Homo sapiens: one gene and its partner. The protein of the gene in region 2 interacts with the protein of the main gene of each other region in a pairwise test. Each region holds a gene or a part of one and is shown on either strand. Other genes may lie near its edges.

Region 1 (2,712 bases), on a different chromosome or scaffold from region 2:
TGTCTCCCAGGCTGGAGTGCAGTGGCGCGATCTCAACTCACTACAAGCTCCACCTTCTGGGTTCATGCCATTCTCCTGCCTCAGCCTCCCGACTAGCTGGGACTACAGGCGCCCGCCACCACGCCCGGCTAATTTTTTTATTTTTTTTTTTAGTAGAGATGGGGTTTTACTGTGTTAGCCAGGATAGTCTCGATCTCCTGATCTCATGATCCACCTGCCTTGACCTCCCAAAGAGCTAGGATTACAGGCATGAGCCACCGTGCCTGGCCAGAAGTGTAAATATTTTAGATGCAAACATAATCTACAAATTCAGAATGCCTAACTAGTTTATGTAATATAAACTTATTTATAGTTTATGAACTGAGAATTATTAAAGAAATGCAGGAGTAATTATTATTTTGTTTGAGATGGAGTCTCGTTCTGTCACCCAGGCTAGAGTGCAGTGGCGCAATCAGCTCACTGCAACATCCACCTCCCAGATTCAAGCAATCCTTCTGCCTCAGCTTCCTGAGTAGCTGGGATTACAGGTACCTGCCACCACACCCAGCTAATTTTTGTATGTTTAGTAGAGACAGGGTTTCACCATGTTGGCCAGGCTGGTCTTGAGCTCCTGACCTCAAGTGATCCACCTGCCTCTGCCTCCCAAAGTGCTGGGATTACAGGTGTGAGCCACCAAGGAGTAATTATTATTAAAAGGTAACCAGCAGCAGTCAGTTTATAGATAAAGGACCTATACTCATTCTCAGCACCTTGCCCAAAGTAGGCATTCAAACTCAAGTGTAGCCAAGGTCTGCACTAGATACTAGGAAACAACAAACGTAACTGTACATTATAAGAAATGCCACCATAAAACTATTGTAGAGAGAAGTGGTCAGGGAAGGTTTACTGGAGGACTAGGAGAATGAGACAGTAAATGGGAAGTTATTTCACCCAGATGTCTGGAAAGATAGGCTGTTTGACATCTCACACTCTGGCAGTAGAATAAAGACTGAATAGGAAAAGGGCAGAGGACAAGGCAGATGTCTATAAAGGTAAGTAACTTGCTTTATCCTGAGTGCTACAGGGGCCACTAAAAAAACAGAATTTTAAGGAATAACATAAGATTTACATTTCAGAAAAATCACTGATGGTGTAAAAGATGGGCTGGAGGGAACTAAAGGTAGGGATCTGTGTTAGGTACCTGTTACAACATGAGAAAGTGTTAAGAATTGAAGACAATGACAGAAGGAAAAGAAACAGATAGTGGGAGCAGAATTAATACATAGGTTTAACGAGGAGTCTAGAATAATTCCAGTTTTATATCAGTGACTGAATGGCATCATTAATGATGACGAAGATAGGAGTCACATGACCTAGGGAAGGTGGGAAGAAATTTTTTTGTTTTGTTTTGGTTTGTTTTTAATGCATTAAGTTTGGGTTGCCTATAGGGCTTCTAAGAGGAGATATATAATAAGTAATTGAATATTTAGATTTTGCTTCCTATCAAGTCTGGGCTGACGATGAAGTACAATGCTATCACCTTTCCCCAACATGGCTCACTTAGTTATATTAACAAACTAATATGTTCTATAGATACAGAGGCAAATAAACAGGAACAATTAGTTGTATACCCATCTCCCTTTCATTGCTAAGGACTGGATAAATATCTTAAAGACAAAATAGTATAGATGCCCAAAATACAGACTTCCTTTTGGTTTTCTTTAGCTAAGTGACTCTCAAGCTTTACTGTGCACAAGCATTACTGAACCAGACTACACACAATACTTCGTCGGCAATCGATTTTTTCTTAAAGGATTTTACTGCATGACTTATATCTCCATAAAAACTGACTTAAAATCCAGCCCCCTAAATAAGATGCAACTCCACTCTAATCTGGGTATAAATAGTTTTGGCCATGAATCTGGATGAGAATCCTCCCTGAAGAATTTGGTTAAAATATGTTCCAGATCAATTGCAGCAGTTCTACTTGGAGTCCATGAGTGGACTTAACAGAATCTGCCAGTCCTCTGAAACTGTGTAGTATTCTGTGTATATGTGCTATATCTTTTTCTATGGGAAGAGGGTCCACAGCTTTCATCAGGTTTTCAAAAGTACCCATATTCCTCAAAAAACGGACCCACTGGTCCAGAAAAAAAATGGTGCTTATGATTTTTATGAGATAATGATTATCAAGCAATGTTACACAGGACATGAGTTCCTCTAAAGTTTAATACTTGAGTGCTGTGGCCGGGCGCAGTGTCTCACACCTGTAATCTCAGCACTTCGGGAGCCCGAGGCAGGTGGATCACGAGGTCAACAGATCAAGACCATCCTGGCGCCAACATGGTAAAACCTCATCTCTACTAAAAATACAAAAATTAGCTGGGCGTGGTGGCATGTGCCTGTAGTTTCAGCTACTCAGGAGGCTGAGGCAGGAGAATCGCTTGAACCTGGGAGGTGGAGGTTGTTGTGAGATCATGCCACTGTACTCCAGCCTGGCGACAGCACAAGACTCTGTCTCAAAAAAAAAAAAAAAAAAAAAATTGGCTGTGTCAAATATTTCTAGTATTTATTTTTTTAAGACAATAGAAAAAGAATTGCTTTTAGAATGGTGTTTTTTTTTTTTTTTTGAGACAGAGTCTTGCTCTGTAGCCAGGCTGGAGTGCACTGGCGTGATGTCAGCTCACTGCAACCTCTGCCTCCCAGGTTCAAGAGATTCTCCTGCCTCAGCCT
Region 2 (3,470 bases):
TCTTCCCCTCTCCTCAATCCATACTCCTTCCTGGAATAGTGAAAAAAACTGGGGAAAAATTATCATCAATAGGGTATTAAAGTAAAATCACTTATACTATGGAATATTATGTAGCTATTAAAAATGAGACTGACCTATGTGTATATATATATAGGGGTTATCACCCCAGCTACTTGTTGCAATTGGTCCCCTGCCTTTGCACTTCTGGTATTTTAGAACAGTTTCTTTTATATATATGTATGTCAGACTCTTTTTTTTTTCTTTTTTGAGACGGAGTTTTGCTCTTGTTGCCCAGGCTGGAGTGCAGGGTGTGATCTCGGCTCACTGCAACCTCCGCCTCCCAGTTCAAGCCATTCTCCTGCCTCAGCCTCCCAAGTAGCTGGGATTACAGGCATCTGCCACCATGCCCAGCCAATTTTTTGTATTTTTAGTAGAGATGTGGTTTCACCATGTTGGCCAAGGTGGTCTCGAACTCCTGACCTCAGGTGATTTACCTGTCTTGGTCTCCCAAAGTGCTAGGATTAAAGGCGTGAGCCACCATGCCTGGCCTCAGACTCATTTTTAATAGCTGCATTATACACACACACAGGGAAAATGCCTAAGATATATTAAGTTTAAAACACAAATTACAGGACATATATCAACATAATTCAATTTTTGTTAAAAAAAATGTATGTGGAGACACATGTTTGCATGCACATGTAAAGAAAAAGGCACAGTGGGGGAACTCTAAGGGATCATCATGGAGAGGGTTATTCAGTCTCTATCTGCAAGCCTCGAGACCCTTGTGTCTAACAGTACAGTTGGCCCTCTATATCTACAGATTTAACCAACCATGGATTAAAAATATATTTTAAAAAATAACAAAAAATATAAATTAAAAAACCAATGCAGTATAACTATTTACATAGCATTTACATTATATTAGGTATTATAGGTAATCCAGAGGTGATTAAAAGTATATGGGAGGATGTGTGTAGGTTATATGCAAATGCTATACCATTTTATATAAGGGACTTGAGCATCCTTGGATTTTGGTATGCTTGGGGATCCTGGAACCAATCTCCCACAAATACCAAGATGACTGTAACTCCTCCATTGTAAAAATACACTTATCCGGTTACATGCTTTCAAAAACTTTAAGAAGCTCACAGAGAATTCCGAAACTTACCCAAGGTTTACAGGAATGAAGAGTACAGAATCCAAGGCTTTAACTTTCTGTCCAGTGTTGTTCACAATTCCCTACCATGTGGTGCGAGATAGGACAACCTCTCCAAGACAAACAGGAAATGTGATAATGGTAATTTCTTACAAACTGAATATAGTGTTGGGTACTAGGCTCAGCCAAAATTGATGTTTTGTAAGGCTGTAGGGAAATATTCCTAAAGGTCAAAGGATCTTGGCAAGCACCCAGGTCTTCTCTGACCATACTGGGAAAATACTGGAAAAGCGGCTGTTTTGTCTCTGCAGGACCACAAACTCTGAAGCCGGACTCCCCAGGTTTGAATCCCAGTTCTATCACTAGCTGTGTGACAATTATTTAACTTTTGTATCTCAGTTTCCTCATGTGTAAAATGGGGATAATAACAGCACCTGCCTCTTAGGATTGCTGTGAGCATTATTAACACATGTAAAGTACTTGGAGCATTTCTGGCACAAAGTAAGTACAGAATGTTGTTATTATTGTTATTATCACTGGAAAGCTAAGAGTTCCTTAGCTACAGGTTCTCAGGGGCCTTTGACAAGTAAAATAGCCTAAAAATGAAAAAAACCTATAGTAGAAAGATGTTAACACTTGTTTCTCTGTTCTCTCCATCAAAACTATGACTCCATTTTTTTCACATCTTCCTTCCTTTTATTGAAAAAAATTTTAGAAAATGGCAGTTAATAAAAGGCACAAACAAATCAACAGGGATATACTAGTGGAAAACACAATATAAAACTAAAATGCCATTGGCTTCTTTAATTGGTTAAAAGCAAAAATGTAACAGGCAGAAAGTCTGTTTCAAACAAATTAAAAAGCTATGTGTTTTTTAAATTCTTCCCAAATCAGATATATACACACCCACAAAAATAGTGTGTGAAGGAAAGCTGTCATACACAAGAAGTTGTATCCTGAATTCTTCAAGGAAACACATATTGAAATAGGAATTAAGAGTCAGCAACAGATTAATAATTTTTTAAAATTGAGTCTTAAAATGCTACATGGCCCAAAGCTATACTATATAAAGTACTGCTAGGTACAAAAGAAAAAGTCTGTACAGCTTTTAGCAAAACTGCTTTCCCAGAAAAGCAAATTAAAATAATGCAATCAGCAGATCAAGGAGACTACAGCTAGACATCAGAGCTACAACTTCTCATATCTGTGTCAGAAAATCCTATTTACCCAGAATAGACTAAAATTTCAGGACAAAACAGGGACTTTTTAACATTTCTTACTTTACCCATTTTAAGTTCTTTTTATCTCCCCCACCCCCCAAGCCACTAATTCAGCAAGATCCAGGAGAAAGAGGGCTACTTTTAGAATTGGCTACTTTATTTTTCTTTCTATGGCAAGACTGTCATGGAGCCTGGATATTTCAGGCTCATATGCATCCATGACCAGTGTCCCACTGTGGTCAAAAAACTTAGCAATGGACTTTGTGAACTCGGCTTCCCGCTGCTGCTTTGTTCTCCCACTGATGAAGGTCAGCTTCAAGGTGTATTTGTCATCAAACCTAAGCATGGGGGCAAAGATAACAAATTAAAAACCAAACACAGAGATTCAACCAGTAACAATACGGCACCAAGTGTTTCCGAAGAAAAGGAGTAAGCTGGGCACGGTGATACAGGGAACAAACACATCCTTTAAAAGCAAAAGCAAAAACAAAACCCCAGGGCTCCTAACTTTTCAAGATACTAGTTCTGATTCTTAGGTGTTGACATATCTTTCCTACTTTAATTACTGTGTACCTCCTTTACCTTGTTGTAGACTTTTAAACCACGTGGACCATCTTCTCTCATCTCTGGACTTCGTATTTGCCATGCTAGACAGGTTTTCCTCGCAGACTCTTCTCCCCTATCTCACCTGAGAAGTTCTTATTTGTTAACACTATACTTGGGCATAAACTTTTCTGGGAAAGCCTACCAATCTGGGTCAGATGTGTTTCCTCTGTCTTCCACAGTACCATCAATCAATACTCAACTCAAATACTGACCTCCTGTCATATGCCAGGCCTAATAATAGGCTCTTATGGTATCAACAAAATTACCTATCTGTTGACATGATGTGTACTACTTTCTTCACTAGACTGGGAGGTTTCTTTTCCCTTTGTTTCTGGTGCTTGAATCAGGATTGTCTAGGAGATTCTTGAGCAAAGATTGTTGTCTTAATTGCTTCATACTCTTAGCTGGGCTTCTAGTAGGCAATCAAATTTTTATAAATAAATGAAGAACCCTTGCTTTCAAGGATGCTCTCCAATCCCGGGGTG

Evidence for each region.
Region 1: the proteins of SPCS2 (region 2) and TEFM interact in a two-hybrid assay, tested with the Homo sapiens proteins (one large-scale study listed by IntAct).

Annotation. Positions count from the first base shown.
Region 1 is NC_000017.11:30,900,637-30,903,348, forward strand, and holds part of TEFM (transcription elongation factor, mitochondrial), read right to left. Parts: intron 1-2,712. UniProt on the Homo sapiens protein: Transcription elongation factor which increases mitochondrial RNA polymerase processivity. Regulates transcription of the mitochondrial genome, including genes important for the oxidative phosphorylation machinery.
Region 2 is NC_000011.10:74,976,104-74,979,573, reverse strand, and holds the end of SPCS2 (signal peptidase complex subunit 2), read right to left. Parts: intron 2,718-3,470; coding exon 2,531-2,717; 3' UTR 541-2,530; downstream 1-540. UniProt on the Homo sapiens protein: Component of the signal peptidase complex (SPC) which catalyzes the cleavage of N-terminal signal sequences from nascent proteins as they are translocated into the lumen of the endoplasmic reticulum.